Linked DNA regions of Homo sapiens: region 2 is linked to region 1. The links come from fine-mapping of genetic effects on gene expression. A gene starts in region 1. The other region holds a variant in brackets. All regions are shown on one strand. Distances are between the middles of the regions.

Region 1 (5,383 bases):
CCCATAATATATTCACATTTTGAATTTAAAGTATTTGCAATGCTATTATATCAATCTATGTAACTAGATAAACTTGGAAGGTCAGTGAAATCTAGTTTTCCTTCTTTCCCAATTCCTGAAAATTATCTTTACTGTCACTCATTATATACAATAGTTTCTCATAATTCAGATACAATAAACATGATTGAATCCACTCACCTTCGATTTGCAAGTTCCACAGCATCAGATGTCACATGGTCAAGAGAATCTATTCCTGATTTATCCATCAATTGCTCTTTGTTTTAAACAGTTTTCTGAAATTATGAAATTTAGTAAATATGACAAAGCTTCCCTAAATATTGACAGTATCTACTACAGTGTTGAACGTGGTCAGACTATGCCAATGATTTCAGGCGAAATCATTTACCAAGGTTAAGCTTCTTATCCATTTCAGATCAGTTTCTTTAAAAAGAAATCCAGAAATTCTATTCACAGGTTCTTTCAGTTGTTACCCTCTAAATGTATTCAACGCAACAAGATTCCAAAAAAGTACCGTCCCTTCCAACAAAAGCATCTTTCAATATAAGTAAAAAATGTAGTTTTATCATTAGCCACATATTTTAACGTACAATTACCAATACAGTATTAATGTACAATTAAAAGCCGTTTTCCAAGATCAAAGGGGGAATTCCTAAAGCAAAGTGTGCCCTATATAAACCAGGAAAAGGATCTCCAATCAATAAACCATTTTAAACTCCTAATCACCTCTCCATTATAATTCCTAGATTCTTCATTCCTAGATTCATTTAAGCAACTGAACTTTGTCATATTGTATCTTTGCCATTATTGGTGGAAACTGACAAGTTCTGAATTCTCAACCTTTTTCAATGAACTATCATAATTCTTGTGTCTTCATCCCCATGGTAGAGAGTATACAACATACCAAAAAAAAAAAAAAAAAAAAAGAAAAAGATTCCTTCTTGTGAGCTAAAAGAAAAAAGAAAAACAGGTTGGTCTGGGTGGCTCAGGCCTGTGTAACACAGCACTTTGGGAGGTCGAGGCGGGCGGATCGCTTGAGCCCAGGAGCTCAAGACCAACCTGGGCAACGTGGTGAAACTCCGTCTCTACAAAAAATACGGAAATTAGCCAGAATAGTGGCGCGCGCCTGTGGTCAGGAGGCTGGGGTAGGTGGAATACCTGAGCCTGGGAGGTGGAGCTTGTATGTAGTGAGCCTCAGCAACACAAGGAGACCCTTGTCTCTACAAAAAATTCTTAAAATACTGGCTAGGTGTGTTGGCCCGTGCCTTTGCTCCCAGCCACTCGGGAGGATCGCTTAAGCCGCGGTGGAGGTTGCTGTTAGCCGAGATTGCACCACTGCACTCCAGCCTGGACGACAGAGCAAGACCCTGTCTCAGGAAAAAAAAAAAAAAAAAAAAAAAAAAAAAAAAAGGCATGGCAACAAAAATTAAAGATAACTACTTATTTCATTATTGTACATGCCTTAGTCAATCTCTTGTCTCATTCTGTAGCTTCTTGGGACCTGACATGAGTCATTACATATAAATCCTAGGATGAACTAGCAAAATATTTAAAATATGAAACGATAAGGTCACCAAGAGCTCAGATTTGTTAAATGCCCCCTGTGGTATTTTCCTGGTACAAGGTCTTACTAGTTTTTTTAAGTACAAGATTCTACAAAGTCATTAAATATCGAATGCTCAAAAACGGAATTCAACAAAAATTTGCCCCCATGCTTTAACGGTATACCTGTAGTTAATTTTTTTTAAAAGTAGGGATTATCAAAATAAAGCTAGCTCAATAATCACTTTTTCGAAGTGTTTAGAAGACACTCCTACTTGGGTGTCGATGCCTCCGTGGGGATTCTGCAATTCTTAGAGGCCACGTGGGCAGAGAGCGGCGCTTTACCCGGAGCTAACGCTGTGACCACCAGCGCCTCTCACCCGGCAGCGCCTAACCTGCAGAAAACCGGCGCGAGTAATGGGTACCTCACATACGAAGGTTAAATCATTTAAATCACGTAATAAGGTTAAACTTGTCCGCAACACGATTTAACACCTCCATCTCAAGATATAATGAAGCCCGTCCACACTACAACCACGTTTGTGTGGGACTCATACCAGCCGCGTGGCGCGGAGTGGCCTGCGGCCGTGATCCCTTCACCCTCTCGGACCGACTTCGGAGTCTCGATCCTCCGGACCAACGAAGGGGCCCCGGGAAACCCCAGATATGCAACGCCTCCCCCGCCCGCCAGGCCCGGACGGCCTCGCCCTCTTAGCAACCTACCTAAAACGGCCTCGCAGTGGCCCCAACCGCGCACTTGCTGCTTGTAACCCAGGCCTCGGCCCAAAACCCGCGACTGGCCTGGTGTCCTAGAGCTCTGTACACACCACCCTCCCGACCTCAGCCCTCCAACTCCCGATAACCAGCCGACCTCCTCCAACCGTGCGGAAGAAAAGGGTTGGCTATTTCCGTGGCCCAAGTAATAGTCAGGCCGAAATCTCGCGATACAACTTAGCTTCCGGGAAGAAGGCGAGCGGTGGGAGGAGACGCGACGTGGGGGCGCCATTTTTCTCGCCGCGCAGGGAGGACTGACTAACGTGGGCGGAGCTCTAGCTCGCGTATTCTGAGGAGGCGGGGTTGGCCTAGGCGAAGATCCGGACTCTGGGTGTTTTGCTACCGTGACCGTTTAGGTGAGTGGAATAGCCAAGAACATTTCGGCAAATAACAAAAACAAAACGTGCGGTCACTTGTGAGTGGATGAGAACTGTGAGGAAACAGCCTCTCAGCCCGGTTCGTTTCCGGTGGTCTCGCGTTTGCTGAGCTGTCGCCTGGCTTTCTAAATCTGGTCCCGGGTGTGTGGCGAGGGTGACGGGTGGGATGTGTGCCTGAGTGTTTTGTAATCCTTTGTCTATTTCTGCCTTCAGAAACCCTTGTGTGTTAAAATATTGGAGAAGGCTCATTCTTTGACCATGACTCGAAGTGTGTAACCTTTGTGCTGGACGCCAGTGTTATTCCATAGCACGCCCAGGTCTCCTCCCCACTTTTGCACCTGTTTCGTAAGCTCACCCTTTCTGCCTCCCAGGAGTTGGCTAACATGTCACAAGTGAGACCTGTGGAGGATTTGTTTTTCCTAAGTTTCCTCCTACATCCCCCCTGCCCCACACCATTAGTTCCTTGACCGGTTCCTGAGTTAAGATTAAACAGTGTAAACTAGTTTAGTTTTGGTGGGGTTTTTTTCTCCCAAAGTAATTTTTTTTTTTTTGAGACCGAGTTTCGCTCTTGTTGCCCAGGCTGGAGTGCAACGGTGCGATCTTGGCTCACCGCAACATCTGCTTCCCGGGTTCAAGCGATTCTCCTGCCTCAGTCTCCCCAGTAGCTGAGATTACAGGCGTGCGCCACCATGCCCAGCTAATTTTTGCATTTTTAGTAGAGGCGGGGGTTTCTCCATGTTGGTCAGGCTGGTCTCAAACTCCCGACCTCAGGTGATCCTCCCGCCTCGGCCTCCCAAAGTAATTTTAAAAAGGAATGAACTGGTTTGATTTTTCCGCTTTCAAAATTCTGTTTTCATATGATAAACCACAAAAATCAGTAAAGCTGTCTAGTCTTATTTTATAGTTCACATTTTAGGATTGAACGGGCCTTAAAAGTAATCTGGTCTCTTTACCTGCTTTGCTCCATAGTTTGGACAATTCCGGGGATAAAAAGTCCGATCCTTTAGGCAGCCCACTGCATTTGATCCACAGGGTCTGGGCAATGACGAAGCTCCAGGACTGGTATGGCATGTCCCTCACTGCCGTATTCAGCAGCAAGCCTAGCTGTGTAATTTGTGAGGCTCAATGCAAAATGAAAATGCAGCGTCCCTTGTTCAAAAAGAAGGGGAAAAGTGCTATTAAAGGGAAGGAACATTTAACTCCTAATGCAGAATCATTGAAATTTCACATTTCATTTTGTATTTTTTCTTTTTTCTTTTTTTTTTTAGAAACAGAGTCTCGCTCTGTCGCCCAGGCTGGAGTGCAGTGTGGCCCGATCTCAGCTCACTGCAACCCCCACCTCCCGGGCTCAAGAGATCCACCCACCTCAGCTTCCCAAGTAGCTGGGACTACACGCGCCCGCCACCACAACCGGCTAATTTTTGTACTTTTAGTAGAGACCAGGTTTCACCATGTTGGCCAGGCAGGTCTCGAACTCTTGACCTCAAGTGATCCGTCTGCCTCGGCCTCCCAAAGTGCTGGGAGTACAGGCGTGAATCACCGCGCCCGGCCACATTTGGTATTTCTCTGTTTGTGTTATAGAGACAGGGTCTTGCTCTGCCACCCAGGCTGGAGTGCAGTTGAAGCAGGATATTCCTCTGACCCCTTCGTGGGTCTTGCGGCTGCGGTGCCTCACTTACTTAGCCCACGGCTCTCAACTCCTCGCGGGAGGGGGGGCGCGAGTGAATGAGGCGGGAACTGGAGTGCTGGAAGCCACGAACTCCAGTCACCCAGGCCTGCTGCGCTCCACCCTTTATGGGAGGGTGCGTGGGGGTGAGCAGATGCTGGAGCCGGAGCGAGCGCTTTTGGTCGCCGGTAGGAGCGAACTCCATGCAGGCCCTGCGGCTGTGTCTAGGGGATGCCCGCGACCCCTGAAGACCCACAGCCTGTCTTACAACCTGTCATGGTTGTGAAAAGTTTTGAGAGAACGTCTGCACAGTGTCTAACGGTGTCTGGTATATAGTGTGCACTCAAATGGTAACCAGTTTAGTTGCGATAGTTGGTCTACCCCTCCAGGTGTTAACCTCTGCAGCTCCGTTTCCCTTCTAGACCCTATTTCTGGGCCATCGACTCCCACCAATTAGGCAGGAAAATACTGTTTGCCTCCATCTGGCCCAAGGCTGTATTCCTGGAGTTTATGTGAGAACCTAACTCCTTTCTCAGCTCCAACTGTAACCCTCTCCCCACCTCCAACACACACATAAACACTCACATACACATGCTACCACACTGCCTGCTGTGCCATCAGCCTGCCTGAAGTTCACATCATTTTAGAATTGGACGGGCCTTCATAATTTAAATTTTATTATGAAAAAGTGATAGTCTAAGGAACTCATTTGATTTTTTTGTCTAAATGTCAAATATAGAGTAGAACGCACAAGTGTCTGTTATAGAAATACTTGAGAGTCCTATATGCACTGTTATCCACAACCATTTAAGCACTTATCCACTAATCCCTAATAAGTACCCCTAATAAGTACATTTCTAAACCAGTTATTCAAGCTACATCCTCCCAAGATTGGACTTTGTTTCTACTTTGGTAGGGACATAAATAAACGGAAACAACTGACCTAACTTTTTACTAAAGAGATAATAAAGGGAATAAAATTAAGATTACATTTGGATTTTAACTT
Region 2 (5,361 bases), 38 kb before region 1:
AGAAAAGCAGAGGGAAATACTCAAATATAATCTCTTATGGAAAGATGAAATGGAGGCTAAGTTTTTTTTTGTTTGTTTTTTGTTTGTTTGTTTGTTTGTTTTTGAGACGGAGTCTTGCTCTGTCACCAGGCTGGAGTGCCGTGACGTCATCTTGGCTCACTGCAACCTCTGATTCCCTGGTTCAAGCGATTCTCCTGCCTCAGCCTCCCGGGTAGCTGGGATTACAGGCATGCACCACCATGCCCAGCTAACTTTTGTATTTTTTGTAGAGACAGGGTTTTGCCATGTTGCCCAGGCTGGTTTCAATCTCCTGACATCATGATCTGCCCAACTCGGCCTCCCAAAGTGCTAGGATTACAGGCGTGAGCCACTGCACCTGGCTGTAGGCTAAGTTTTTAAGTCCAAGGCTGTGAATGGTTGTTGTTTTTGTTGTTGTTGTTGTTGTTGTTTGAGACGAAATCTTGCTCTGCTGCCCAGGCTGCAGGCTGGAGTGCAGTGGCACGATCTTGGCTCACTGCAACCTCTGCCTTCCAGGTTCAAGTGATTCTCCTGCCTCAGCCTCCTAAGTAGCCAGGATTACAGGCATGCACAATCACGCCCAGCCAATTTTTGTATTTTTAGTAGAGACGGGATTTCACCATGTTGGCCAGGCTGGTCTTGAACTCCTGACTTCAGGTGTCCTGCCCACCTTGGCTTCCCAAAGTGCTGGGATTGCAGGCGTGAGCCACCGCGCCTGGCCGAATGGTTGTATTTTCAATGGAAATATCCTTTTGGCATTAGAAGCATATCTTATTTTTTATATATAGATAAAATTTTGTGATTGATGGAACTATTTATTTGGTTTACGTTCTAATTTAAGAAGGGAGATATAAATCTAATGAATAATGCTTCACATGATCCCCCAACTTGTGCTTCCCCACCCTCATCTCCACTTTTTCAGATAAGTAAGCCCACAGTTGAAAATGATTTAAAAACCCAGAAGATGGGGCAGCTCAGAGACTGGTTTCCTAATACACAAGACCTAGCAGGAAATGATCAAGAAAATATTAGGCATGCAGATAGGAACAACTCTGATGATAATCATTTGGCTTCAGAAGATACTAGTGCCAAGCAAAGTGGTAAGATAATTGTGTTTGATTGTAATTATTTCACTGATTATTCCTTGTTTTCGTCCCCTGTAGCTTGCTAGTTGAAGAAAAGTTAGAAGTATGTTAATAGATTTTGTATTGTATCCAACTTTGTCATTGACTTAATAGGTGAGCATCTGGAGAAAGATCTGGGGAGAAGATCCTCAAAGCCACCTGTAGCAAAAGTCAAATGTGGTTTGGACTTAAACCAGCATGAACTTAGTGCTATACAAGAAGTAGAGTCACCAGCAATTGGCAGAACTTCTATACTAGGTAAATAGATGCTTTGATAAAACAAGATTTTTAAATAATTTGCCAGTTTTCTACTTTTTTTTTAGATGGAGCCTTGCTCTGTTGCCCAGGCTGGAATGCAATGGTGTGATCTCAGCTCACTGAAACCTCTGCCTTCTGGGTTCAAGCAAATCTCCTGCCTCAGCCTCCCGAGTAGCTGGGATTACAGGCGCCCGCCACCACACCCAGCTAATTTTTGTATTTTTAGTAGAGACAGGGTTTCACCATATTGGCCAGGCCGGTCTTGAACTGCTGACCTCAGGTGATCTGCCTGCTTCAGCCTCCCGACGTGCTAGGATTACAGGCGTGAGCTACCGCACCTGGTCTACATTTTTTCAGAGTGCTAAATGTTTTTTGTTAAACTTATAGCAGAAAAAGGAGATGGAAAAAAAAAAAAGAAACCTAGACTGACTTTCATGAAAAGGAAAAAATGGCTTATTTAAACAGTATTTAAAATTTGGACTTAAGGAAATGTGGCATTGGTAATAACTATGACTATGTAGTTTCTTTATCTTGTATATGGGGAAAACAACTTATTGTAGGCAAAAATTTTTTGGTTTTCCATCTTCTGACAGTCTTGCTCCCCGTTTCCTTTCATGTCTGCCTTCTAAATGTGTTTCTTTTAGGATACACTCAGGTTTTTTTTTTTTCTCTTTTCCTTTGTCACTTTCTACTTTCCTACCTTCACTGTTCTGTTCTTTTCTTATATTTTTATAGGATTATTATGCTTAAATCCTGGCTTTGTGGTCAATTAGATATATTTATTCACTGTACTACTTTCTACATCCAGGTGTCAGAAAAAAATAATAAAACACTCATCCCTGTAATTCTTTTTTTTTTTTTTTTTTTGAGACAGAGTCTCGCTCTGTCGCCCAGGCTGGAGTGCAGTGGCGCAATCTCGGCTCACTGCAAGCTCCGCCTCCCAGGTTCACGCCATTCTCCTGCCTCAGCCTCCCGAGGAGCTGGAACTAGAGGCACCCGCCACCAAGCCCAGCTAATTTTTTTATATTTTTAGTAGAGACGGGATTTCACCGTGTTTGCCAGGATGGTCTCCATCTCCTGACCTTGTGATCCGCCCGCCTCGGCCTCCCAAAGTGCTGGGATTATAATCTTGAGCCACTGCGCCCGGCCCCATCTCTGTAATTCTTAATAAATAGTCTTATGTGAATTTCATAATTTTTTTTAGAATTCAGATTCACTAAATAATTTTCTCGATCAAATTTATCAAAATAAATTATTTTTTAAAGGGGAACATTAGCTTTGTCAATAGAAAGGTACTTAGAAGTTGTATCCCCATTAGTATAGTAGTTGAAAAAAAAGCTGTAATGTTAATATTAGCTGTTTGATCTTCAGCTATAAAATATTGTACCTGTGTTTCTGAGCATTTGAAAGAATTAAGGGAGGTATGCCAGGTGCAATGACTCACACCTGTAATCCCAGCACTTTGGGAGGCTGAGATGGGAGGATCGAGACCAGCCTGGTGTAATGCAGGGAAACCCCCTCTGGTGGCGCTTGCCTGTAGTGTTCAGCTACTTGGGAGGCTGAGGTAGGAGGCTCACTTGAGCCCAGGGGGTTGAGACTGCAGTGGTTTCTTTTAAGTCTAGGAGTAAGTCTAAATAAGTCAAGACCCCTAGGTAGGTGAACTAAAATCCCTACCAAAACCCCTGGTAGGTGAACTACCAGGCCCTCATGATCTTTCTCTTCCTCCCTTCAAGACTTAGTAAGTGTCATTGGTTTGGTAAACTTATTCAGATTTCCTTCTCATGAAGTCTTGGTCTCATCATAGCCTTTACCATACTTCTTAGGGTAATACTTCTATCATCATATTACATGCAAGTAATTTAAAAAGGGAAATAGCGCTGAAAGGTATAACATAAAACAGCAGTTCTTCCTGCCCCTACACACC[C/G]TTTAATACCACTCACTAGAGGCAGTTACTTTTCAAGTATTTTAAGTATTTCTTCTTGTATTTACTTCCATAGTTGCAGTGGGTTTAAGCAAAAATTAAGCTAAATTGTCATTATGGTGATACATAGACCTTTTTTGCTGCGGAGTCCATTAGTATATTATGTTATTATATTTTATTTTTCTAAACTTTTTTTCATGTAGTAAATTGTCTTATTTATTTAATTTGCTTAAAGTTTTTAGAGTGTCTGTCTTTCCACTCTCTACTACTTCAGTTAAATACCTCTCAATATAATGTAGTTTGTACTATTTTCTCTTTTTGTGGAACACCTTTTAGTTGGAAGTTGTATGGGCCGTGCTATGCATTCTTAACAAGGGTGTTTTTTCCCCCAGAGGGATAAAAATTGGTTCTTGGGGAGGTGAAAAAAAACTTTTACTATTTATATGTACAAAGCACAAATATGCATAAATAGATATACAGTATATTTGTGGTTATTAAAACTGAACGGGGGTAGAGGCAGTTTAAAAAGGAAAAGTCTAAAAAGACTCCTTAAGGGATGATAAAAATAAGGTTGAGAAATACTGATCTATATTGATCTTTCCATTTTTTCTTCTCTTTCTTTTTCTTTGGGTTTTGTTTTGTGGGCTAATTTTCTTAATTTTGTGTTCTGACTTTTCTTTTGAACTTTTGATGATCAAATTGTAGTTTCTAAAAGGTTACTCTTTTTCTCTGATTATTTTCTTTTTTTATAGCATCCTGCTATTGTTTCATGGATGCAGAATGTTGTCTACTTTAAATATTTACAGTGGATTTTTTGGTTTGGGTTTTTACATTTTTTAGTTCTTTCATTTTTTTGTTGTCTCTGTCTTATACTTTAGAACCTTTCCTCTAATGTCTTCATATTTGAACGGGATGCTAAAAGGCCAATTGGAGGTTCTCTTGGGGTGAGGGGCTATATGTGCTGTTGGACTTTATTGGAAAAAGTATGGCTTTGTAGTGAGGACGCTCACCTTAGTATCTGTAGTTCCATTCCTTGAGAGAAGTTTAGTTTCTTCAAAGAAATACCTTTTAAGCTTGATATAAGCCTGGCTGTTGATATTATTGAGCCAGACCTAGGAGATCTGGATTGAGGATGCAGACTTTAACACCCTCTGATTTCCTTATGGCATTCTGTCACCCCCTTCCACTCTTGCCTGCTTTCTGTGCCTGATCCCCTGGACCCCAGAGTGTATCAGATTCGTTTTCTCCAGAGAATAAACCTTTAGTTTCCTCTGGGGATGATGTTGATGGACAGGGATCTCAGGAGAGGGATAACTCTTCCAAGTGCATAGTCTTAAATGTTCTGTTTTTAGTTTCCTGCTGCATGTATTCCTTTTGTAGTAGTGCCTAGCGCCCTTAATTCCCAATTTTTGGGGCGATGCTTTATCAAAATATAACCTTCAAAGAGGTGCACAAATCATGTTTGTTTCATGTAAACACCACCAGGTCAAGAAGTGGAACATTAGAGAACCCAGTAAACACTTCTCTTTTACCTTCCCAGTTATCATCCCCTGTCTTCTAAACCATATCTTGATTCCTATACCACAAATTAGTTGTGGTTATTTTTGAACTTTATATATAAATTATGAATGCATGTTATAATGGCTGGTAAATTCTCCACGAATTTTCTTTGTGATTAGTCAATACTGAGGCATAATCTGATGTGGTGAGGTAGCAGCATCATTAAAAGCTTAGTAAAATTGAATACAAATAATATAAAAGCTTGACTGTGAAAGGTAAGGAATTATTGCTATATACAGTAAGTCTTTAAGAGCTTAGATTTCTACCCATAATATAAATTGGCACTTTAGTTCTAGCTATTAATAGTTCCAGAAATTGAAGTGGAAATATTTTTTCCCCCCCAGGTAAACCAGGTATTTATGAAGACAGAGACCCCCTGCGAGTCTCAATAAGCCGAGAACAAAGTTTCTTTGGGAGCCCACTGGCCCATGATCCGTTTAGTTGTCTTCAACTGGTTGGCCAAGAGAATGTCTGTGGTGA

Evidence for each region. PIP is the estimated chance that this variant, and not a neighbour inherited with it, causes the effect. A credible set is the group of variants that fine-mapping cannot tell apart.
Region 2: its variant is the best candidate, but not a certain one, in a credible set for the expression of TAF1D in whole blood (TOPMed, PIP 0.56).

The regions. Positions count from the first base shown.
Region 1 is chr11:93,739,039-93,744,421 of GRCh38, forward strand. TAF1D (TATA-box binding protein associated factor, RNA polymerase I subunit D) reads right to left here and starts at 2,457. Exons shown (of 6, transcript NM_024116.4): 1 at 2,284-2,457; 2 at 199-293. The coding sequence starts at 266. C11orf54 (chromosome 11 open reading frame 54) reads left to right here and starts at 2,634. Exons shown (of 9, transcript NM_001286069.2): 1 at 2,634-2,690. RefSeq lists enhancers at 1-79, 2,117-2,626, 2,755-3,440, 3,207-3,326, 3,847-4,386.
Region 2 is chr11:93,701,520-93,706,880 of GRCh38, forward strand. It overlaps CEP295 (centrosomal protein 295), which reads left to right. Exons shown (of 30, transcript NM_033395.2): 16 at 941-1,118; 17 at 1,257-1,400; 18 at 5,226-5,361. Among named protein-coding and RNA genes, the nearest start is that of SNORA25, 26 kb to the right of the region's middle. The variant C/G (reference allele first, on the strand shown) is at 3,325.